Regions from separate parts of the Homo sapiens genome. Here regions 1, 2, 3 and 5 are each linked to region 4. The links come from fine-mapping of genetic effects on gene expression. A gene starts in region 4. Each other region holds a variant in brackets. All regions are shown on one strand. Distances are from middle to middle.

Region 1 (5,000 bases), 48 kb after region 4:
GCGAGACTCTATCTCAAAAAAAAAAATAAAATAAAAAATAAAATAAGTCACTGGCATAAACATATCCTTTTTATGTCTTATTCATTAGAGTTCTTTAAAAAGTAAGGTTGGGCCAGGCTCAGTGGCTCACGCCTGTAATCCAGCACCTTGGGAGACCAAGGTGGGTGGATCGCTTGAGATTAGGAGTTTGAGACCTGCCTGGCCAACATGGTGAAAACCTGTCTCTACTAAAAATACAAAAATTAGCCAGGTGTGGTGGCGTGCGCCTGTAATCCCAGCTACTTGGGAGGCTGAGGTGGGAGAATCACTTGAACCCAGCAGGTGGAGATTGCAGTGAGCTGAGATTGTGCCACTGCAGAGCAAGACTTTGTGACTTTCTCTCAAAGAAAAAAAAAAAAAAGATAAGGTCAGCTGGGTGTGCTTGCTCACGCCTGTAATCCCAGCACTTTGGAAGGCCAAGGTGGGAGGATTGCTTGAGCCCAGGAGTTTGAGACCAACTTGGGCAACATGGTGAAATCCCGTCTCTACAAAAAAATTAAAAATTAGCTGGGTGCTTGAGCCCCTGACTTCGAGGTTACAGTGAGCTATGATTGCTCCACTGCACTTCAGCCTGGATACAGAGAGACCCTGTCTCAAAAACCAACCAACCAATAAACATCATTTTAGGAAGCCTTTAAAAAAAATGGAAATAAAGTGGAAAGCAGGGGAAAAAAGGAAAGTACGAACATTTGTATATAGTTTCCAGTTAGTGGGATTAGAAAATGGTATGGTTTGATAGACCTTACATTTAACATCATCTGCCAAAAATAAGATGATTTCATACATGCTTCCCCTTCTTTCTAGGACTGGTGTAGACTCATACAGAGGCTTGAGATACACAGGCATGTGATATAACGTTGTCGTTTTTACATTCTCATGTAAATATCTAGCTGCTATTTTATTCCAGAAAAATTCTAGGCCCCCCCCAAAACAAAAAATTACAAACAATAAAAAAACTCCAAATCACTCTTTTAATTATGATACTGACTAGAGATTAAATGCTATTTAGATGGTAAATCTTGAATATTTATTTATTTAGTGATTTTTTTGAGACAGAGTCTCACTCTGTCACCCAGGCTGGAGTGCAGTGGCGCGATCTCGGCTCACTGCAACCTCTGCCTCCCGCGTTCAAGTGATTCTCCTGCCTCAGCCTCCCGAGTAGCTGGGATTACAGGCATGTGCCACCACTTCTGGGTAATTTTTGTATTTTTAGTAGAGATGGGGTTTCGCCATGTTGGCCAGGCTGGTCTCGAACTCCTGATCTCAGGTTATCCACCTGCCTTAGCCTCCCAAAGTGCTAGGATTATAGGTGTGAGCCTCCTCGCCTGGCCTATTTATTCGTTTTATAACATTTATCGAATACCTACTTTGTGTGATGTTCTGGTTTATACTAATGAATGAGATGACCAGGTCCCTGACATTAAGGAGGTTTTAATTTAATTGTATGGAGAAGAGGTAGGTAACTCAGTCATTGCCAGAAGCATATGTATATGTATCTTCATTGCCTATGGGAGTGTGATTGGGGAACATCAAAATTAGATTAAGGATTTAGGAAGGCTGCTAAAAAGAGGGGATTGTTTGAGCTGAGTTTTGAAGAAAGATTGCAAGAATTAGTGAAAGAATGATATTGTAAGCAGAAGAATTTCCGTACATGAAGTCATAGAAGCGTGAGCCACTGAAGGAACTCTAGCTCTCCATGGCCATTTACATTTAAATTTGTTAAAATTAAGTGAATTTTAAAATTCATTTTCTTATTCACACCAGCCACATTTCAAGTGCTTAGTAGCCTTAGCTAGCTGGTAGCTCCCATAGTGGATAGCTCAAATATAGGCCTTTTCCATCATTGCAGAAAGAACAAGGCTGCACTCAGTAGTTCAGTTTGGTGGATGCAGAGAGCATTGGTGATGGGTGAAGGGAAAAGAAAGCTAGAGAGGTAGACAGAGGCCTGACAGTATTTGGAGGTCAAGCAAAGGAATTTCAGCTGCATTCTTAAAAGTTGTAGTGAGCTAGGCCGGACACGGTGGCTCACGCCTGTAATCCCAGCACTTTGGGAGGCCTAGGCGGGTGGATCACAAGGTCAAGAGACTGAGACCATCCTGGCCAACATGGTGAAACCCTATTTCTACTAAAAATACAAAAATTAGCTGGGCGTGGTGGGGCGCGCCTGTAGTTCCAGCTACTCGGGAGGCTGCAGCAGGAGAATCGCTTGAACCCGGGAGGCGGAGGTTGCAGTGAGCCGAGATCACGCCACTGCACTCCAGCCTGGTGATAGAGCGAGACTCCATCTCAAAAAAAAAAAAAATAAATAAAGTTGCAGTGAGCCATTGGAATGATTTTAGAGTGAGTGATATGATCCACTGTGTTTTTTAGCTAGATTCTCCCAAAAGCAGGGTGGAGGACTAGGTTGGAGTGAGAGAGGAAATACAGAGGTCTCCACTAGAGGAGAGAGGACACCTTGAGACCCTTGCACCTTTTATTTTATCATCATTGTTGTTGTCGTCATTACTGTTTTGAGAACGAAGCCTGAACTAAGGCGGCAGTAAGGAAGGAGAAGAGCCAGGTAAGAGAAAGGCAAAGAGCGCACAGATCTTGAAGATTGCTTGAACTTGGAACCTGAGGAAGAGTGAGACCTTGCTGGTGACAATGGCCGGCTGGCAAGGTCACTCTGAGGGAACTTGGGGAGCAGTGCTTTGGAATATAAAGGTGATGAGTTAACGTACAGGCATGAATGTGTTGTATAGGCAAGTGAACAAAGGGATCTAGAGCTCATCAGAGAGAATTTTGGCTGAAGATCAAAAAGTAGGAACCATCATTCTGTGAGTGGTAGTTAAAGGTAGGAGGGACAGTGAGCATGGTCACTCGGGTAAGTACAACAAGTGAAG[C/G]GTGAAGAGCCCAGGGTGGCTCATGGGGAACTCTCTACTCTTCTCCTTCTCCTCCTTTTTGAGGGGCAAATGAGAAGTATGTACTCACAAAAGAGACTCAGAAGGAGTCCCCAAGAAGTAGGAAAAACAAGAGATTGCAGGGTCACTGAATGAAGGGGCAGAGTGTTGAGAAGAATGGTCCACAGTACAGATGGAGCAAAAAGTTCAAGTACCTTAAGGAGTACGGGAAATACTTGCTGGACTTGACAATAGAAATTATTGATAATCTTAGTAAAGGCATTTTTATTCAAGGGTTGAAGACAGAGTGGGTTATGTTGAATTAAGGGATATATAGGATGTGACACATTTGAGTCAGTGAAGATGATAATTTCAAGATATGTTGTTTATAGGCTCATGCCTGTAATCCCAGCACTTTGGGAGGCTGAGGCGGGTGGATCATGAGGTCAGGAGTTCAAGGCCAGCCTGGCCAAGATGGTGAAACCCCGTCTCTACTAAAACTACAAAAATTAGCCAGGCATGGTGGCAGATGCCTGCAATCCCAGCTACTCGAGAGGCTGAGGCAGGAGAATCGCTTGAACCTGGGTGGCAGAGGTTGCAGTGAGCCAAGATCATGCCACTGTACTCCAGCCTGGGTGACACAGTGAGACTCCATCTCAAAAAAAAAAAAAAAAAAAAAGAAAAAAGAAAAGAAATGAAGAAGAGATGATAATTTGAGAGGGTTTTAGGGATTTGAGATGTGAGAAAGTTAAACATGGTTATCTACAGAGGGAAAAAATGCCATAACAAAAGGAGAGGATGAAAATGTCAGGAGCCGAGGGGAGTTGTTCTAGGCCACTGGGGACATAGAGGAGCATGGAATGCAGAGCACAGGTGGAGAGAGGAGCGCCCATGGAAGAGAAGCATCTCTTCCACTGTTACGAGAAAGAATGACCAGGGTGATTGTAGATGCAGGTAATTTTGTAAATAGCAGGAGAAGAAACTGGGAAAGTTCCTGCCTAAACCACTGGAAAGATATTGTGGAGTTAGAATCACATCTCAGCTTGACTACTTTTTAATTGTGTGATCTAGGGCAAATTACCTGTCTGAACTTTATTTATATGTGAATGGGCTAAAGTTAGATAACATGGAAAGCTCTTTTTTTTTTTTTTTTTGAGACGGAGTCTCACTCTGTCGCCCAGGCTGGAGTGCAGTGGCGCAGTCTTGGCTCACTGCAAGCTCCGCCTACCGGGTTTACACCATTCTCCTGCCTCAACCCCCCGAGTAGCTGGGACTACAGGCGCCCGCCGTCATGCCCGGCTAATTTTTTGTATTTTTTAGTAGAGACGGGGTTTCACCATGTTAGCCAGGATGGTCTCGATCTCCTGACCTCGTGATCTGCCCGCCTCGGCCTCCCAAAGTGCTGGAATTACAGGCCCAAAGTGCTGGAATTACAGGTGTGAGCCGTGATTCACACCCTGCCGGAAAGCTCTTTTAACAGTGCCTAGCGCATGGTTGAGGCTCAGTAGTGCTAGTTCTTCCATCTTCCCTTCCCTTCATTACCTTGAGATACAAAGTCTCTTCAAAAAGTGATAAGGAGAGATTGTGTCAAGTGCATGTCACACACATGAAAATAAGTGGTATCAGTGACCGATACCATGGCACAGTGACATTCAAAGGAGCAGCAGCAGTGAACCAGGTATTTAAGGCTTGGGTTTAAAGAGCATAATATAGTATTTTTCCGTTCCTTAAATAAAGGCAAAGATGAAACAGGTTAATAGGGGCTTGACACAATAAGCTATGAAGTTCATTGTTGTAGAAAACCATTGTATAATCAAGATATTCAATGAGTTGTCAACTAGGGTCCTTGCACTAGATAAACGACAAAAGATACGTAGCTAGTTAGCTCTTAAGTATTTGTTTAAATATATTTACATGCTTTTCTTCCCTTCCTATCCTATCTCCTACTAACAAATCAACTACTACCCCTGATAAAACAAAAACAAGAGGAACACAAGGATACCTGTAAGGTTTTCCAAATCTATAAATACATTTCTGGTCTTAAGTGCAGGCACCCTTCCTGATTTGTCTATTTTTTTACAT
Region 2 (5,000 bases), 74 kb after region 4:
GCTGGTCTTTAACTCCTGGCCTCAAGTGATCTGCCTGCCTCAGTCTCCCAAAATGCTAGAATTACAGGTATGAGCCACTGCTCCTGGACAATAATAGCTATAATATAATGAGCACTTTCTGTGTACCAGATGCAGCGTAAGTACTTTATTTGCAGAATGCTTTTTGTGTATGATCCCATTTAATCCTGAAAAAAGGAAATTGAGGCTTAGAGAGTTTAAATTAATTGTGCAAGGTCACACAAGCTGTAAATAGAGCTGCCAGTGGGTTTGACTGACTCCAGAGTCTATACTCCTGCCAGGTCTCACCCGCAGACCCTGACCAAGTAATGGATGAAAAAATGCACTCCAACACAGACATCCAGTGAAGGAGCGGGCTAGGGGACCGGGCCGTTCACAGAAAGAGTTGTAGCAGCCACAGCCCTGACATGCTGGTGCTGCAGGCATTTATTTAGTACAGATTTAATGACAAAGGCCTTGAGTCAACATACTTGTAAGTAATTGTGCATGGATGATTAAAGGCCAGGTTCCAAGGCCTAAGTAAACTAACTTATCTAGATCAGTTTTTTTACATCCCCTTGTTATCTAACCTAAGCTTTCAGGAACCAGATAAGAGAATCTGGTTGCCTTCAGCCAAATCCTAACTTTTGTAAAACCTCCCGGCCTTCCAAGAAGGTTTGCATCTTTCTACAATTTTTCCCACCACCCGACCTATCTCCTACATGCTCCTGACTACTGGGTCACACAAACCTGCCAGTACTGAATAGTTCATGCATCGTATTAACTAGTTTACATATATATATATATATATGTCTCTTTAGACCACAGCTCCTTTCAAAATCCCTAAAACTCAAGCATCTTCCAACCTGTTAGCCTTGGTTACTCGTCATGGGCCTGCTGAAGAACAGTCGAAAGATGGGAATGAGCCACGGGAATGTGCCCATTGCCTCTTAGTGCAAGGAAGTGAGAGGCAGCGGGCCGAGCAGCAGAGCAAGGCAGTGTTTGGCAGGTAAAAGACTGTTTCCATTCTAGCATTAAACATGAAAACTGTAATAGTAAAACATAGATTTCTGTTATAAAAGCAGCAAGACTACATTAGTGTAGCGGGTGATTTATGCCATATGGTTATTGATATGTACCACGTACATTTAGAATCTCTGAAAACCACAGATGCTTCCTGTAACTATGTAAGTACATAGTTCTTCCTGAACTTTTTGAATATTCTATTTCTGTCCTTTATTTGTATTATTGAAGTTTATCTCTACCCTGAATTGTTTGGTATCTATTTCTTGTTTCCTCATTCTCTAACTTCCTATTAACCCTTCTAGTTTTAAAAAGTATACTTTTCCTTTATTAAAAACATCACTATTCTTTTTAGATCTGTCAGTACCGGGAAGTTATCAGATCAACAAGGAAAGACTCCTATATGTCGACATCAGGGCAGCACAGACAGTTTAAATACAGAACGACCAATGGATATAGGTAAGAAAAATGTAGTTTCTTTTTAGGCAGGTAATTTGCTAGCATATGCATTTGTTTCTTACTGCTGTTGTAACAAATCATCACATGCTTGGTGGCATAAAACAACACAAATGTATTATTTCATAGTTCTGGATGCCATCCCTATCCTCTCATCTTCCTTCTCAGTAGCCCATTCAGAATAGGACCTTATTCAGTATCTTGATGAGCAGCAGCCTGTGCGTTACTAATGGAAGGAGTTCTGACGAAGATTTTTTTTTTTTTTTTTTTTTTTTTTATCAGTAGGGTAATACTGGTCGAAGTTGGCCTAAACCTACATGTACTCCTGAGCATTTACTTTACAGCAACTGGATTTTATAAAGACCCATAGGTCACTGAGACCCCTGAACCTTTCGGAGTTGCTCCAGAGACTGTATGTTCATGACCACCCATGTATATCTAGATTACTTGGCCTGTGTGTCAAAAAACAAAAACAAAATGGAGATTCTAGACTGTAATTCCGTATTCCAGACTTGCTTGCTTAAATTTTCTGGGTTTTTTTTTTGGGAGATGAAGTCTCGCTCAGTCGCCCAGGTTGGAGGGCAGTGGCGCAATCTTGGCTCACTGCAAGCTCCGCCTCCCGGGTTCACACCATTCTCCTGCCTCAGCCTCCCAAGTAGTTGGGACTATAGGCGCCCGCCACTACGCCTGGCTAATTTTTTTGTATTTTTAGTAGAGACAGGGTTTCACCATGTTAGCCAGGATGGTCTCGATCTCCTGACCTCGTGATCCACCCATCTCAGCCTCCCAAAGTGTTCTGGGGGTTTTTAGGAATCAACATGTGTAATACACTCCCAGGTGATTATTGTGGACACCCAGATTTGAGAATCACTATTGTAATCTCCTTGTTTTTTTTTTTTTTCTCTATGACTTTTTAATTTTCCCCATGAGCATCCAAAGGAGGAAATATCTGAGCCAGCAT[C/T]GTTTCTTTCTAATCCAAAGAGAATACTGTAGGATTTAATATTTCACTGTACTATCTTCTTCCCTGCATAGTTTCTAAAGAGAAGTCTGATGTAATTCTTACCCTTGTTCTCTGTAGGTGAGGTGTGTTTTTGTCCTTGGCTTCTTTCAAAATTTTCTCTGTCTTTGATTCTCCGAAGTTTGAATATGATATGCTTAGGTGCAGATTTTTTCATATTCATTCTGCTTGGTGTTTTCTGTTTCCTAGGTCCGTGGTTTTGTTCTGTCATTAATTTTGGAAGTTTTTCAGCCATTACTGCTTTGAATGTTTCTTCTGCTTCTCTCTCTCATTCTTCTGGTATTCCCGTTAAGTATATGTTCTACTCTTATAGTTGGCTCATTGTTCTTAAAAGTCTCATGCTCTACTGACTGAGCTAGCTGGGCACTGGCTCCATTGTTCTTAGTCTGTTCTTTTTTTCTTCTTCTTCTTCTTTCATTCTTATTTCTCTTTGCTTTTTAGTTCAGGAAGTTTCAGGAAGATATTCACATATCTTCAATCTCACTGATTCTTTCCTTGGCAAAGTCCAGTCTACTGATGAGTCCATCAAAGGCATTCTTTGTTTCTGTTACTGTGATTTTGATTTTTAGCATTTCCTTTTGACTCTGAGTTTCCATCTCTCTGTCTGTATTACCTATCTGTTCTTGCATGTTGTCCACTTTTTCCATTAGAGCCCTTAGTATATTAATTATCATTACTTTAAATTCCCAGTGTGGTATTAAACAATTCCAGTATCTCTGCCATATGTGAGTCTGGTTCTGATGTTTGATTTGCTCTCTCTTTTCAAACTGTACTTTTGCCTTTTAGCATGCCTTTTAATTGAGGCTGGGTATGATGTACTTTGTTTAAAAACTGAGTTAAATAGGCCTTTAGTGTGAGGTTTTTTGTTTATCTGGCCAGGAGTTAAGCTTTATTTAGTGTTTGCTGTAGCTGTAGGTATCAGAGGCTAAAATTTTCTCTGGTATCCTTGTTTTTGTCTCTCCGGTTGTCTTTGGGTTTCCCTATACACTCCTTCTTAAATTGCATCTGGACCTTGCCTAACTCTGTATTTTCTTCCAAGAGTTTTATAATTCTAATTTTAAAAGTGTAAGATGTAGCTCTTATGCTTATGTCTGTGGTCCAGTTTGACTTAATTCATATGGATGATGTGGTGAAGGGATCCAGCTTTATTCTTTTGGATGGGCTATTCAGTGGTCGCAGCACCATTGAAGACTATTCTTTCCCTGTTGTGTTGTTTTGCTAGCCTTGTCAAAACTCGGTTGACCATTGATAGGGTTAGGTTTTGTGTCCCCACCCAAATCTCATCTTGAATTGTAATTCCCATAATTTCCATGTGTCAGGGGAGAGCCAGGTGGAGGTAATTGAATCATGGGGGCAGTTTCCCCCATGATGTTCTCATGATAGTGAGTTCTCACGAGATATGATGGTTTTATAAGGGGCTCTTCCCCGCTTTGCTTGGCATTTCTCCTTCCTGCTGCCTTGTCAAGAAAGTGCCTTGCTTCCCCTTTGCCTTCCACTGTAATCGTAAGTTTCCTGAGGCCTTCCCAGCCATTCTTAACTGTGAGTCAATTAAACCTCTTTCCTTTATAAATTTCCCAGTCTCGGGCAGTTATTTATAGCAGTATGAAAATGAACTAATACAACTATAAATATGTTTATTTCTGGACTCTTAACTATTTCACTGATCTATATGTCAATTTATGCTGGTACCATACTGCCTTGATTACTGTAGCTTTGTCTTAAGTTTTGAAATCAGGAAATACGAGTTTTTCTTTTTTGTTCTTTTTCAAGACTGTTTTGGTTATTAGGGGTGCCTTGAGTTTCCATATGAATTTTTGCATCATCTTGTCAGTTTCTGTAGAGAGACTGGCTGGGTTTTTTTTTGTTTGTTTTTTTGTGTTTTTTTGAGACGGAGTCTCGCTCTGTCGCCCAGGCTAGAGTGCAGTGGCATCATCTTGGCTCACTGCAAGCTCTGAGAGACTGGCCGGGTTTTTGGTGGAGATTGCATTATTAGATCACCTTAGTGAATATTGAAATCTGTCTTAGTCCATTTTGTGCTGCTATAACAGAACATCTGAGACTGCGTAATTTATGATGAACAGAAATTTACTTTCTTACCATTCTGGAGGCTGAAAGTCCAAGTTCAAGGCACTTGATCTGGTGACAGTCTTGCTGCATCATCACATAATGGAAGGCAGAAGGGCAGAAGAGGGCTTGTCCTTTGACCTCAAGCCCTTTTATAATGGCATTAATCCATTCATGAGGGCTTTTGGGTCTTGTTTCCTCTTTTCTTAGTCTGGTCAAAGGTTTGTCAATTTTATTTATCTTTTCAATAAACTAGCTTTCATTTCCTTGATCTTTTGTATTGTTTTCTTAGTTTCAATTTCATTTATTTGTTCCCTGATTTTTATTATTTCTTTTCTTCTAGTAATTTTAGGTTTCGTTTGCTCTTGCTTTTGTAGTTCTTTAAGATGCATTGTTAGATTATTTGAAGATTTCTTCTTTTTTGATGTGTAGGCACTTTTAG
Region 3 (5,000 bases), 39 kb after region 4:
GTTTACAGGTATATTTTTCCCTCTTACTACTGCTTTTGCTACATCCCATAAGTTTTAGTATGTTGTGTTTTCATTTTCATTTGTCTCAAGATATTTTCTAATTTGCCTTTATGACTTCTTTGACTCATGGTTGCTTAAGAGTTGGTATCCTTTGGCTCTGTGTCCCACCCAGATCTCATCTTGAATGAGATGAGACGGGGAAGGGCTTGGTGGGAGGTGAGTGAATGGGGAGGGGCTTGGTGGGAGGTGAGTGAATCATGGGGGCGGATTTCCTCTATGCTGTTCTCGTGATAGTGAGTTCTCACAAGATCTGATGGTTTGAAAGTGTGGTACATCCCCTTCCTGCTCTGCAATGGTAAGACATGCTTGCTTCCCCTTCACCTTCTGCCATGATTGTAAGTTTTTTGAAACCTCCCCAGCCATGGAGAACTAAATTAAACCTCTTTTCTTCATAAAATGGCCAGTCTCAGGTAGTTTTTTTTTTTTTTTTAGCGACGGAGTCTTGCTCTGTCACCCAGGCTGGAGTGCAGTGGAGCAATCGTGGCTCACTGTAACCTCCACTTCCGGGGTTCAAGCGATTCTCCTGTCTCAGGCTCCTGAGTAGCGGGAATTACAGCTGCGTGCCACCACGCATGGCTAATTTTTGTATTTTTAGTAGAGATGGGGTTTCACCATGTTGGCCAGCTGGTCTTGAACTTCTGTTCTCAAGCGATCAGGCTGCCTGGGGCTCCCAAAGTGCTGGGATTATAGGCATGAGCCACTGCGCCCAGCCTCAAGTAGTTCTTTATAGTGTGCGAAAACAGAGTAACACAAGAGTGTTTTGTTTAATTTCCACATATTGTGGATTTTCCCGTTATTTCCTCTGTTACTGATTTCTAGTTTTTTTTTTTTTTTTTTTTAAACAATCTCAAAGGACAGGCATGAACCACTGCGCCCGGCCCTTGATTTCCACTTTTATTCCATTGTGATTGGAAAAGATAATCAGTCACCGTGATTACAATCTTTTAAAATTTATGGGCCAGGCATGGTGGCTCATATCTGTAACCTTAGTGCTTTGAGAGGCTGAGGAAGGAAGACTGCATGAGGCCAGGAGTTTGAGATTAGCCAGGGCAACATAGTGAGAACCTGTCTCTACAAAAAATATTAAAAATTAGCTGGGTGTAGTGGTATGCACCTTTAGTTCCAGCTTCTTGGGAGTCTGAGGTAAGAGGGATTACTTCAGCCCAGGAGTTTGATGCTGCAATGAGCTAATTGCACCACTGCATTCCAGCCTGAAAAAACAGAGCGCAACATTGTCTCTGATTAAAAAAAAAAATTATTAAGACTTGTTTTGTGGCCTAAGGTGTGGTCTGTTTTGGAGAATGTCCCATGTGTACTTGAGAAAAATATATGCTCTGCTCTCAGAGACTAGAGTACTCTGCGTGTGTCTGTTAGGTCCAGTTAGTTTATAGCACTGTTCAGTGCCTCCCTTTCCTTATTGATGCTGTATCTGGTTATCCTATCCATTACTGAAGGTGGGATATTGAAGTCTCCAACTATTATTGTACAAATCTCTTTCTCACTTCAGTTGTCAATGTTTGCTTCATGTATTTTGGGGCTCTGATTGTTTATAAATCTTAAATTTTCTTGGTTAATTGACCCTTCTATCATTATTTAATACCTTTTTTTTTTTTTTTTTTGAAATGGAGTCTCGCTCTGTCACCCAGGCTGGAGTGCAGTGGCGCGATCTCGGTTTACTGCAACAACCTCCGCCTCCTAGGTTCAAGCGATTCTCCTGCCTCAGCCTCCCAAGTAGCTGGGACTACAGGTGCCTGCCACCATGCCCAGCTAATTTTTATATTTTTAGTAGAGACAGGATTTCACCATGTTGGTCAGGCTGGTCTCAAACTCCTGACCTTGTGATCCACCCTCCTCAGCCTCCTAAAGTGCTGGGATTACAGGCGTGAGCTACCGTGCCCAGCCCCCCCCCTTTTTTTTTTCCTTGACAGGGTCTCATCCTGTCACCTAGTCTGGAGTGCGGTGGTGCAGTCTTGGCTCACTGAAACCTCTGCCTCCTGGGCTCAAGTGATCCTCTCACCTCTGCCCCTCAAGTAGCTGGGACTACAGGTGCAAAGCTACCACACCTGGCTAATTTTTGTATTTTTTGTGGAGACAGGGTTTCACCATTTTTTCCAGGCTGATCTAGAACTCTTGAACTCAAACGATCCACCCACCTTGGGCCTCCCAAGTGCTAGGATTACAGGCTTAAGCCAGTGTACTTGGCCTTATTTAACGTACTTTTTGTCTTTTATAACAGTTTTCAATTCAAATTCTATTTTGTCTGATAGTCAACTTTGCCCTTCTCTTTTGCTTAGTATTTGCCTGGGAATAGCTTTTTCCATTATTTTGCTTTCAAAT[AT/T]TTGTGTCTTTAGATTTAAAGCGAGTCTCTTTTTCTTTTTTCTTTTCTTTTTGAGATGGAGTCTTACACTTTCACCCAGGCTGGAGTGCAGTGGCACAATCTCAGCTCACTGCAACCTCTGTGTCCCGAGTTCAGGCGATCCTCTCACTTCAGCTGGGACCACAGATGTGCAGCACCATGCCTAGCTAATTTTTTTGTATTTTTGGTTTCACCATGTTGCCCAGGCTGGTCTTGAATTCCTGAGCTTAAGAGATCTGCCTGGGATTAGAGGCGTGAGCCACCTCACATGGCCTAAAGGGAGTCTCTGTTCTGTTTACAGATTATAGTTGGATTATTTCCTTTTAATCTACTTTGCCAGTCTCTGCCTAAGGAGATCTATTTACATTTAAAGTAATTACTGATGAGGAAAGATTTTCACCATTTTACTATTTTTATGTCTTACAGCTTTTTTGTCCCACATTTCTCCCATTACTGCTCTCTTTAGTGTTGTTTTTTATAGTAATGTGTTTTGATTCCTTTCTCATTTCCTTCTGTGTATATTTTTCCTTGTGGTTACCTGCGGATTACATATAACATCTAAAGTTACTGAATTCATATTAACTTTAGTTGCACACAAAAACTCTACTTCTGTATTGCTTTATACCCCCTTTATGTTGATATCACAAATTATATCTTTATGATAATTTTAATGCATTTGTCTTTTAAACTCTGTAGAAAGTGAAAAAGTGAAGTTACAAACCAAAATTACAGTACTATTGGATTTTAAATTGCCAGTGCATTTATCTTTTCCGGAGATCTTCATGTCTTCATGTGGCTTTTTACTGTCTAGCTCTTTTCATTTCAACCTGAAGTACTCTCTTTAGCATTTCTTATAGGGGAGGTCTTGTGGTAATGAATTCCCTCAGCTTTTGTTTTTCTGGGGATATCTTAATTTCTTCCTGAGTTTTGAAGGACAGTTTTGTGGAATGTAGAATTCTCAGTTAACTTTTTTTTCTTTCAGCACTTTAGATAATATCCCACTGCCTTCTGGCCTCAAGATTTTTGATGGGAAATTGGCTGATATTCTTATTAAGGATCCCTGTATATTACAAGTTGCTTCTCTCTTGCTTCCAAGATTCTCTCTGTCTTTTGAAAGTTTGATTCTGTAACTCTGTGTGGGTCTCATCAGTTTATCTTAAAGTTTTTGGAAGTTGCTTTTTTTTTTTTTTTGAGACAGAGTTTCGCCCTTGGTGCCTAGGCTGGAGCGCAATGGCAGGTTCTCGGCTCACCGCAACCTCCACCTTCCGGGTTCAAGCGATTCCCCTGCCTCAGCCTCCTGAGTAGCTGGGATTACAGGCATGTGCCACCATGCCTGTTAATTTTGTATTTTTAGTAGAGACGGGGTTTCTCCATGTTGGTCAGGCTGGTCTCAAACTCCTGACCTCAGGTGATCTACCTACCTCTGCCTCCCAAAGTGCTGGGATTATAGGCGTGAGCCACCACGCCCGGTCCAACCTAATTCTTATCTTAGGTAAAAACAGCTACTTGAAAATGTCAGACCAGAGAAATCATTAAGACATGTTTAATGAAAATACTTAGCAAATTAACCCTGATCTTGTAGTTTTTAGGGAAAAAAGTGTTTGACTTTTCCTGTAGTAATAGTTGTAATACTAACAGAGATTTGTGGAAATATACTCCAGGATTTTGGTTTGCTAATGTATAGTATAATAGGGAAACCCACATTGGTATTTAAATAAGTTGGACTAGAATTTGAATTCTAGTCCCTCACCTTACTAACTCTTTGACATTGGACAAGAAACATGGCCTTTGTGTGCTTTTAATTTTATTACCCATCATAGGAGGACATACTTCCTCAGATAAGGTTTGTGAAGCACCCAGTTCATTGTCTTAGTGAATGTTGAATACTCAGTAGAGGATAGCTGTAATTGTTTCCATGTCGGGGAAAAGATGAAATGGTCTGAATACCTATTTTCTTAATGTTTTGTAAAGTTGGACTAAAATTAAGTTCATGTAGTTGGAAATATTTATACCTATTAGGGAGAAGTTAAGCTGAGAGTTGCTCTGAACCATGAGAATTATGGTCAATAGTGAAACAACTATTATGGAGAATGGTTTTAAAATTATTGAATGTATTGTTTTTGTAGTTTCTTTTTTTTTTTTTTTGAGACGGAGTCTCGCTCTGTCACCCAGGCTGGAGTGCAGTGGCGCGATCTCGGCTCACTGCAAGCTCCGCCTCCCGGGTTCACGCCATTCTCCTGCCTCAGCCTCCCGAGTAGCTGGGACTACAGGCGCCGGCCGCCATGCCCAGCTAATTTTTTGTATCTTTAGTAGAGACAGGGTTTCACCGTGTTAGCCAGGATGGTCTCAATCTCCTGACCTTAGGTGATCTGCCTGCCTCGGCCTCCCAAAGTGCTGGGCTTACGGGCGTGAGCCACCACACCCGGCCAGTTTTTTCTCTTTTTAATGTGAAACCAGCATCAGGAATACTTGTAGGGGCGAAGGATAGTTTGTTGTATAAATCAGCTGTATCAATTTCCTCTTAGGACAATTAACAGCTGTAGTTCACATGGGTGCTTAACAAGGGCCTGGTGATCACAGTTCT
Region 4 (5,000 bases):
GCTTCTGGGGACTCAGAACACCCACAGGCTTGTGTTGGGGGCAGCCATAGTTACATGATCCTGCCTTCCTCAGTCCCATTCCTGGCTTCCGATGATTGTTCAGGGCCCAGCACCCAGCTGAAGTTAGGTTGATCAGAATCCCCTCCTTAAGAATTTGGTGGCTGGGCCCAGTGGCTCACGCCTGTAATCTTAGCACTTTGGGAGGCCGAGGCAGGCGGGTTACCTAAGGTCAGGGGTTCAAGATCAGCCTGGCCAACATGGTGAAACCCCGCCTCTACTAAAAAAGCAAAAAAAATTTTAGCTAGGTGCAGTGGCACGCAACTGTAATCCCAGCTACTTGGGAGGCTGAGGCAGGAGAATCGCTTGAACCTGGAAGGCGGAGGTTGCGGTGAGCCGAGATCGTAACACTGTACTCCACCCTGGGCGACAGAGCAAGACTTCGTCTCAAAAAAAAAAAAAATTTGGTTTGGAGACTGGGGCTGCCATTGCCACCATGTAGGAGATCTCAGGCAAGAGAACAAAGCAGGGGCACAGACGGAAGGCAGTTCTCTTTGAGATCCTGGTTCTGCGGGTAGTTTGCTTTTGAAGCCCAACTTTGAACTCTGAGAAGCACACCTGTATCTTTATCTACATTCTTTATTTTTCACTTTATCACATTTGACGTTTGCTATTTGCTACCAACATAGTCCTAACTAAACATTTTTTAGCAAAGCACCCCCTGCCTCCTGCCCCCACTTCTTTTCTGACTCTTGAGGTCAGAAATCCTGCACATTTTGCTTTTCAAATGGATATGTCCATGGGGCCCATGTTTGGCCTGTGAATACAGGACACGCATGTCCAAACGAAGGGCCTATTGGAGGTTTCTGAAAAATACCTTCATGTGGCCGGGCGCAGTGGCTCACGCCTGTAATCCCAGCACTTTGGTAGGCCGAGGTGGGCGGATCACGAGGTCAGGAGATGGAGACTGTCCTGGCTAACACGGTGAAACCCCGTCTCTACTAAAAACATACAAAAAATTAACCGGGCGTGGTGGCGGGTGCCTGTAGTCCCAGTTACTCCGGAGGCTGAGGCAGGAGAATGGCGTGAACCCGGGAGGCAGAGCTTGCAGTGAGCTGAGATCGTGCCACTGCACTCCAGTCTGGGCGACAGAGCAAGACTCCGTCTCAAAACAAACAAACAAACAAACAAAAAACCTTCATGTGGCTAGGTGAGGTGGCTCACACCTATAATCCCAGCACTTTGGGAGGCCGAAGTGGGCGGATCGCTTGAAGTTGGGAGTTTTGAGACCAGCCTAGCCAACATGGTGAAACCCCACCTCTACTAAAAAAAAAAAAATTAGCCGGGCATGGTGGTGCAGGTCTGCAATCCCAGATACTTGGGAGGCTGAGGCAGGAGAATCACTTGAACCCAGGAGGCGGAGGCTGCAGTGGGCCGAGATCATGCCATTGCACTCCAGCCTGGGCAACAGAGCAAGACTCTGTCTCAAAACAAAAAACAGGCCGGGCGTGGTGGCTCACGCCTGTAATCCCAGCACTTTGAGAGGCCGAGACAGGCTGATCCCTTGAAGTTGGGAGTTTGAGACCAGCCTGGCCAACATGGTGAAACCCCATCTCTACTAAGATACAAAAATTAGCTGGGCGTGGTGGTGCGTGCCTGTAATTCTAGCTGCTTGGGAGGCTCAGGCAGCAGAATCACTTGCACTTGGGAGGCAGAGGTTGCAGTGAACCAAGATTGTGCTACCGCACTCCAGCCTGGGTGACAGAGTAAGATTCTGTCTCAAAAAAAAAAAAAAAAAAAAAAGTAAACAAAAAAATAGACTGTAGAGAATCTTTCAGTGAGGTAAGGAATCATCTCCATCCATTTTTGGGTGTATGTGCAAACTTGCTTAAGTTGCTGTCAACTTTTGAAGGCTCCAGATTTTCAGTGTCTAACACAACCACCTGGGCCAGATGTAAGTAAGGACAGGATAACGTAAGCGTGCACAGTAGCAGAAGCAGAAACTCAAGGCCCTACGTTTTGAGCGTGTGAGGAAGGAGCGTTCTCTCAGAATCCTGGAGCTGACTCTGTCATGGTTCAGAGATCAGCTTGCAGGGACAGGCAGTGGCAGTCGAGGTGGTGACAGACCCCAAAAGCACATACCCTATACAACCGAACACACACTCAAGTGTGGAGCCTGCGTATTCCATGGTAGTTTCAAGCATATTGTTTATTAAATGGTTTCATAAGACACTTCTTTGCGGGAAACCTGACAATCTGTTCCTTGTCACTTGGACAGCTTTAACAATCAGGTAGAAAAGAAAGCTCCCTTCGGCCATGTGAAGTAAGCCCGAGGTCAAACTAGCCTGACACTAGGAGCTCCCAGGAGAACCTTGAAAACGTGTGCGATTCTGAGTCGGTGTGCAGAAACGATTCTCTGCGAAGAGGGCCCTGAGCTGTCACCAGCTTCTCGCAGTCAAGGGACCCCCAAAAGGTGCAGAATCCCGCCTGTCACCGTCCCTCTAGGGATCCTAAGCGAGTAAACCCCGAGAGGCGTCCGAAGGCTGGCAGTTTGGCAGCGTGAACTCTGGTTTTCCAGAGCGCGGGCAAAGCCTGGAGTAGCAGTTGCTCCTTTGCTCTGGCAGGAATCTGGGGGTCTACCCTGCGCAGATAATCCCGTCCTGCCTGCAGCTGGGGTTCAAGACCCGCTTCTCTGAAGTCCGCCTCCCAGCGGCCTGGAGCCCGGGGCGTGGTCGGCTCGAATCTGCTCCCCAGGCCCAGAACGGAGCCCGCAGCCCGTAACCCGCTGTGGCCGCAGCGGGTCGCGCCCTTCGTCCCCGCCTCAGGAGCGGCCGAGGATCTGCCCAGCTGCGGGCGCCAAGCCCTGGCCGCACTCCTTTCCCCGGCGGAGGGAGCCGGCTGGCGCTGCGGCCTTCAAGGCGCGCGGACGTCGCGGAGGGCAGCCAGTCGCGCGGGAGCGGGTAGCGCGCGCGAGGGCGTTGGGCGCCGCCGCGAGGCGGGGAAGCGCGGGGCCGCGGCGGTGCGGGTTCTAGGGCGGCGGCCGTCGCCGTCGCAGCAGCGCCCCGAGCGGGGAGGGCCGAGGAGGCCCGACGAGCTGGGGATGGAGAGTACCGGGCCCCTCACTGCCTCAGAGCGCGTGTGCGGCTCTGGGCGCGCACAGTGACGGTGACGGCACCCCTGGCCCGGCAGCGCCGAGGCCGCTTCGCCAGACAGCCAGCGGCCGGCGGCAGGCCGGGCCATGAGCGGCAGGGGCCGGGCCGGGCCTCGCTGACCCTGGCTCCGCGCGGCAGCTTCCCCAGTTTCCGCTCCGGTCTCTCGGCATGAGAGTCCGCCCGGGCCCGGGGCTGCGGCTGCCCCAGACCCGCCGCACGCTGGCGCGCTCCGGGCCCGCGGAGCCGCGGTGCTGATACCTGCGCCGCACTGCGCCGCCCGCCCGTCCGCTGTGTGCCCCGGGGGCGCGGCCATGGAGGTGGTGGGTGACTTCGAGTACAGCAAGAGGGATCTCGTGGGACACGGGGCCTTCGCCGTGGTCTTCCGGGGGCGGCACCGCCAGGTGAGCGCCGGCCGGGGCGAGGCCGGGCCCCGGGCGGCAGGCACGGGGCTAGGTGGTTCTGAAACTTGGCGCAGCCGCGAGCCGAGACCCCCGACTCGGCTAGCCGCCCGGGTATGCTATTGTGCGCGCAGCCCGTCTCGCCGTTTGTTTTGGTCCTGTGAGGGTTGTTGTGAGGCCCAAGCCTCTGGCAGCGCTCCGCCTACCGACCGGCTGCTGCTGATCCTCCTGTGTGCCCGGGGCCCACCCCGCGGTCCGCCCGCAGGAGCGTTTGCACCCAGGTTACCCTGGACCCAAAATAGACGGTACTGCACCGTGCAGACTCGAGGGTTGGGCGTGAATGGACCTTTGGTTTTTTTCCCCGTGCCCAGGGCTGGTCACTTTTGAGGTTGATAATTACAGACCCAGCGGAAAATGGGCGGATGTCCCATTAGCCTCAGGCTTTCGCAGCCTGGGAGGTGTCACCTTTCCCAGCACTGGTCCCCTGCACCCCGAAGAGCCCCCGTACCGTTTTCCCCCCCGGAGTCAGATAGACGAGCTCCGGGTGAGAAAGGTGGTTGGACAATTCATTTTCAATCACCTTGAACATGAAATCACCTTTAAGCCTTAAAAAAATTGTTTTAAGCCTTTGCTGTTTCGCAAGTACAGTTACACGAGGTTTTAGAATCTAAAGAATTTGGAAAGGCATATCGGGAGTGGAAATAATCTTAAAGGGTGTGGCAGTTCTGATTGTTGCCCAAGGGGCGTGTTAAAAGTGGGCTGACTTTGTTGCTTATCGGATGAAGTAATGCTACTTTTCTTATTTATTTATTTATTTATTTTTGAGACAGAGTCTCGCTTTGTCGCCGAGGCTGGAGTGCCGTGGCGAGATCTCCGCTCACTGCAACCGCTGCCTCCCGGGCTCAAGCGATTCTCCTGCCTCAGCCTCCTGAGTAGCTGGGATTACAGGTGCCCGCCACCACGCCCGCCTAATTTTTTTTTTTTTGTATTTTTAGTAGAGATGGGGTTTCACCACGTTGGCCAGTGTGGTCTTGAACTCCTGACCTCAGGTGATCCGATCTGCCCGCCTCAGCCTCCCAAAGTGCTGGGATTACAGGTGTGAGCCACGGCTCCCGGCCTACTTTTCATTTATTAGGAAAATAATTTAGAACTCAAGCACGGTGTAATCCTTCCAAGCTAACAAATAACTTTTCAATTAACTGTATCACCTTCCAAGTTTATTTCTACATTTGTCCATAACTTTGAAGTGGTTGTGAACTGTTCTTTTTTCATTTAATGTTAGTTACCATGTGGACTTCATATTTGTTATTTTTAGAAGTTGTGTTGTAGGATCTTGGCATATTGCACTATAATTTATGAAATCACTTTCCAATTATTGAAAATAATTCCATTTTTCCCCAATGCCGTACATTTATTTGCCAAAAACACCTTCGCGCTTGTAAATTTTTTTCTG
Region 5 (5,000 bases), 97 kb after region 4:
CTTCTGCCTGCCAGGAGTACTCTGTGCAGCCATCCTGTAACTGCTTCAGTCCAGAGAAGGATAGCATCCATCCCTCCCTCCAGCTCGCCTCTCTGCTGAGGCTTTCTCCTCTCCACTCAGCATTTGCAACAGCTTCTCTCCTGGCACTTGTCTGGGAATATCAAGTTAAAAATTACAACACCCAATTTTGATAACTTTAGTTGAGAGAAACAACCTCTAGTGAAGACTGATAAGTAACTTATTGCCCGTAGTCCCATGTTCCTTTGTCTCCACCAAGAGGAATTACCAGCCCAGCAGTTCTGCCCTCACTAGAGTCCCGTCCAGGAGCTTGAGAGGAGAGGATTTTTAGGGCTGGATTGCCTCAGTCTGCACAGTAATAAGTTGAGTTAGACACAGTGGACATGAGGACCTGGACTCAGATATCTGAAGAATCCTTATTATTTTTTTGTTGGCTTGTTTTGAGACAGAGTCACCCTGTTGCCCAGGCTGGAGTGCATTGGCGCAATCTTGGCTCACTGCAACCTCTGCCTCCCAGGTTCAAGTGATTCTTCTTCCTCAGCCTCCCAGGTAGCTAGGATTACAGACATGCGCCACCACGCTCAGCTATTTTTCGTATTTTTAGTGGAGATGGGGTTTCACCATGTTGGTCAGGCTGGTCTTGAACACCAGCCTCAGCCTCCCCAAGTGCTGGGATTACAGGCATGAGCCACCGTGCCCGGCCAAAATCCTTAATGTTTTTGTTTTTTGGTTTTTTTTTTTGAGACAGTCTTGCTCTGTCACCCAGGCTGGAGTGCAGTGGCACAATCTTGGCTCACTGCAAGCTCCGCCTCCGGGGTTCATGCCATTCTCCCGCCTCAGCCTCCCGAGTAGCTGGGACTACAGGCGCCTGCCACCACGCCCGGCTGATTTTTTGTATTTTTTAGTAGAGGCAGGGTTTCACCGTGTTAGGATGGTCTCGATCTCCTGACCTCGTGATCCGCCCGCCTCGGCCTCCCAAAGTGCTGGGATTACAGGCGTGAGCCACCGCGCCCGGGCTATCCTTAATGTTGATATTAGTGGTTAGCACATGTTTTGGAGGAGGACTTCACACTTTTTAAACTATGCTCCCTCGTATTTTCTATAAGCAGTCTTAAATTCTTTCTGGAATAAAGCAAGATTGATCAGTATTTCTCAAGGAGGATTATTTGGCAGGCAGTAGCTACTGCTCAGAGAACTTGGTATTGTTACATGCATCCTGGAAGTATCTGTGCCTATTTCTAGACGGCCTCAGACCACTTTTTTCTGAGTCCTGGACCCTTGAATCTGCAGCCAAGCAAGCTCTTGGGTCCCTCCCAAGTCTCATGTTTAGTAAAGCCCTGTGAGAATAATTTTATTGGTGGAGGAGTCAAGATGATACTTCCCTCACCTGCATCAGAGGAAACCACATCAGAAACAATCCACCTAGAAAAACACTGCATACGGGAAAGCTGACAACTTGCCCTGAGAAATCACAGCTTTGGTGCAAGAGGTGAAGCCGAACTGGTAAAAGATCAAAGTGAATTCAGAGATCAAACTGTACTAGGGAAAGGAGCAGAGGCTGAGATCTTGCTGCCAGCGTGACCTCTCACAGAGTGGCCCAGCAGAGGCTGTGCAGAGATGGCCAGAGCCAGGACCCAGCCCTGTGGAGCCCCTGGGCACATGTGGTCCCGAGTGAAGCCGTGCCTGTTGCTCTGAACAGGTGGGATCAATCTGTAGGTTTTTCCACTTTTCACAGAGTGTGGCTCTCTTTAGGTCTGCACTCCCTCTCTGCGCAGGGCGGACCTCCCTGGGCTCTGCAGCATGATCTCCTGTCCCAAGACAGTCGTGCTCTTGGACAGTTAGCTTCTGTCATTAGGAAGTGCCCACATGAGCTCTTGTTTATTGGAAACCGTGTTCTATGCCTCCTTTGGGGTTTCTGCAACTCA[A/G]TTTGGCAGGTAGCTTAGTGGTCCACTTGGTCTCAAATTCCAGCTCCACCATGTGCAGTTGTGTGTTCTTTGGCAAGTTCCTCCCCTCCTCCGAATCTGTCAGTGGGGGAAGAGTGCATGTCTCACAGAGTTGAGGTGAGAAATAAGTTAATGAATATGAAATTCTTTGCCCAGCCCCTGGCACGTGGAAGGGCTCAGCAATCCTGTATCCGTTGTAGTGGTCATCACTCTGTGGCTCTTCACTGCTTTTGTTTTGTTTTGGGAGGGGGTGGAGAACAATTTGTTCTGTGTTTGTGTGGGGCAAGGCCTGTCTTCAGGGCTCTCTCCAACCACGTACGCTCTGGCTGGAGCTTCTGAAAGGACACAGTTCTTGCATAGAAGTTGCTTTCTCCAGCTTGCCCACCAGGCAGTCTGGCTTCAGACATCTATGTTGCCCTTTTAAGTCAATTTGGCTGTTTAAGTGGAATGTTTGTGTCAGTCTGATAATTGTTAATTCATTTGATCCTCATACCAACCCTTACTTGCCTCCTTTTACAGATGGAAAAATCAAACTTGGACAGTAATTTCCACAAGGAAAAGCCCCACAGCTGGAAAGCGGTGGGAGCAGGAGGCCACACTGGGTACAGGAGTACCCATCTCCCCACAGGAGCCCCACACTGTCTCACCCTTAGGAAGCCCAAATGCTCACTCCTTGAGTTTCTAATGCATTCTTTCTGATGTACAGGAAGAGGGGAAGGAAGGAAGAGCTTTTCCATTTGGTGCTCCAATGTCTCCTGCTGGACCCATCTGCCTAGTGGAAGGCAGCAAAATTTCAAGAAACAGGTGAGGTTGAGCAGCTTGGTGCAACCCCATGGGGCCTGGAGTTGGAGCTCAACAGCAATGGATTTCAGAGACCACCCTGAAACTCCCAGTAAAAAAGACTTGGGAGACATGTTAATAAACTCAAGCATTTGATCGACCCACTTTTAAGTGTTCCTGTTTGCTTGTTTTTGCATATGGCAGTGAGATTGAGCAGCAGGGAATTGTTTCAGTGGGAAGTGGGAGGACTCTCAAGTCTAGATGTGCCCAGAGGACCCTCCCCTGCCATAGGCCCTGCCGCCTGCTGGGGCCAGTTCCTTCACTGATGGCAGTAGACATAGCCCCTTTCTCCAGGAAAGCCCTTTAGAGGCTGCCCTGCTGAGGCTGCGTGCACTCCCATTCTCACCTCGGCCTGCCCAGCCTAGCTTTCAGTGCCAGTCCCCTTTGGCTTACGCAGGACGAGGATGGCATGTAGAACCCCATCTCCAGCCACCAAGTCCACCCAGCTGCTGCCTTCTCCTACCTTCTGTCCTATTGTTCCCATCTCAGCCCACATGGGGGCCCTTGTTTACACTGGCACCCCCACCCGCTACTACAGGGAGAGGCTGGGGAAGAAGATAGTGGCTGAGCCTGGCCAGATCTCTGGAAGGCCTCTCCCAAGTCTCACGGGCAATAAAGTGACTTCTTGTCTAGCACATGGATTCCCTTCAGGAAGCAATGATGGGAAACCTACAGCCAGGGCTTCTGAGGGGCCCTGGGTGGCTAGAGGTTATTGCTCCACTTCCTCTGGAAAATTTCAGTGAAGATGAAGATGAGTTGATAAACTTTGGAGCTAAACCAAAGATGACTGATTTAGGTAGGAATTCTCATAAAGAGCAGGAAGAGTGCAGGCTGCTGATTTGATATGGAATGCCTTGTGGTTGGAAAATGGATTTAGTTTCTAGTAGAAACCCAGAATATTTTGAGCACGAACAGTTTTGTTTTCATAAATCCCTTTTACATTCTGAGAAAGAAAACAGCACCCCCATACACCTGTCTCTTTGGGAGAACTTTCCTACAATATGATGAAAGTATGCACAAAAGGTTTGAATACATTTTAAGTGTTTATAAGATGATAAAGATATATCTGTGGGTGTCCAATGGAATAAGTTTTCCTTCCCTATCTGTAGTGTCTGATGGACTTGGAAAATGGGAATTATTTTAGAGGGTGGGTGAGACTTGTTTGTTTGTTTGAGGCGGAGTCTTGTTCAGTCACCCAGGCTGGAGTGCAGTGGTGCGATCTCAGTTCACTGCGACGTCCGCCTCCCAGGTTCAAGTGATTCTCCTGCCTCAGCCTCCCAAGTAGCTGGGATTACAGGTGCCCACCACTAGGCCTGGCTAATTTTTTGTGTGTTTTTAGTAGGGATGGGGTTTCAGCATGTTGGCCAGGCTGGTCTCAAACTTCTGGCCTTCAATGAACCACCGCCTCAGCCTCCCAAAGTGCTAGGATTACAGGAGACATTTAATTTTATATTCCATAATGCTGATATTTTTCACCATGAGCTTATATAATTAAAAAAAAATTTTTTTTTTTTTTTTGAGACAGAGTGTCACTCTGTTACCCAGGCTGCAGGCTGGAGTGCAGTGGCACGATCGCAGCTCACGCAACCTCTGCTTCATGGGTTCCAGCTATTCTCCCACCTAAGCCTCCCAACTAACTGGGATTACAGGTGTGTGCCACCACGGCTGGCTAACTTTGTGTGTGTGTGTGTGTGTGTGTGTATTTTTTTGAGATGGAGTCTCACTCTGTCGCCTTGGCTAGAGTGCAATGGCGTGATCTCGTCTCACTGCAACCTCTGCCTCCTGGGTTCAAGTGATTCTCCTGCCTCAGCCTCCTGAATAGCTGGAATTACAAGCACGTGCCACCATGCCCAGCTAATTTTTGTATTTTTAGTAGAGACGGTTTCACCATGTTGGCCAGGCTGGTCTCGAACTCCTGACCTCAGGTGATCCGCCCACAGCCTCCCAAAGTGCTGGGATTATAGGCATGAGCCACTGTGCCTGGCCTAATTATGTAATTTTTAAAAACAAGGTTTTTTTAAGTATAGGAAAACTAAAAGACTAGGAAAGATTTGCAGTAAATTCAACAGATGAAGGGAGGTTAAAGTAGGGGAAAATGTTAGGAGAAAATCCAGAAATTCTCTTTGCTCCTGACAGCCCCACTTCACCAATGGTGAGCAGCAGAGGGGCCTGAAAGGGTAGTGGGTTTGAGAGGCCCTG

What was found. PIP is the estimated chance that this variant, and not a neighbour inherited with it, causes the effect.
Region 1: its variant is fine-mapped to the expression of ULK2 in nasal epithelium (TOPMed, PIP 0.94).
Region 2: its variant is fine-mapped to the expression of ULK2 in whole blood (INTERVAL, PIP above 0.99).
Region 3: its variant is fine-mapped to the expression of ULK2 in skeletal muscle (GTEx, PIP 0.96). The same link has a PIP of 0.9 or more in sun-exposed skin.
Region 5: its variant is fine-mapped to the expression of ULK2 in whole blood (TOPMed, PIP above 0.99). The same link has a PIP of 0.9 or more in fibroblasts.

What each region holds. Positions count from the first base shown.
Region 1 is chr17:19,817,395-19,822,394 of GRCh38, reverse strand. All of the region lies in intron 12 of ULK2 (unc-51 like autophagy activating kinase 2), which reads left to right. Among named protein-coding and RNA genes, the nearest start is that of TRG-CCC3-1, 41 kb to the left of the region's middle. The variant C/G (reference allele first, on the strand shown) is at 2,922.
Region 2 is chr17:19,792,101-19,797,100 of GRCh38, reverse strand. It overlaps ULK2 (unc-51 like autophagy activating kinase 2), which reads left to right. Exons shown (of 27, transcript NM_014683.4): 19 at 819-1,006; 20 at 1,376-1,479. Among named protein-coding and RNA genes, the nearest start is that of ALDH3A1, 46 kb to the right of the region's middle. The variant C/T (reference allele first, on the strand shown) is at 2,438.
Region 3 is chr17:19,826,518-19,831,517 of GRCh38, reverse strand. The region is part of intron 10 of ULK2 (unc-51 like autophagy activating kinase 2); the gene reads left to right. Among named protein-coding and RNA genes, the nearest start is that of TRG-CCC3-1, 32 kb to the left of the region's middle. The variant AT/T (reference allele first, on the strand shown) is at 2,398.
Region 4 is chr17:19,865,878-19,870,877 of GRCh38, reverse strand. It overlaps ULK2 (unc-51 like autophagy activating kinase 2), which reads left to right and starts at 2,942. Exons shown (of 27, transcript NM_014683.4): 1 at 2,942-3,550. The coding sequence starts at 3,461. RefSeq lists silencers at 2,889-3,478, 3,559-3,738 and an enhancer at 3,317-3,825.
Region 5 is chr17:19,768,735-19,773,734 of GRCh38, reverse strand. ULK2 (unc-51 like autophagy activating kinase 2) reads left to right here. Exons shown (of 27, transcript NM_014683.4): 27 at 1-2,905. Among named protein-coding and RNA genes, the nearest start is that of ALDH3A1, 23 kb to the right of the region's middle. The variant A/G (reference allele first, on the strand shown) is at 1,944.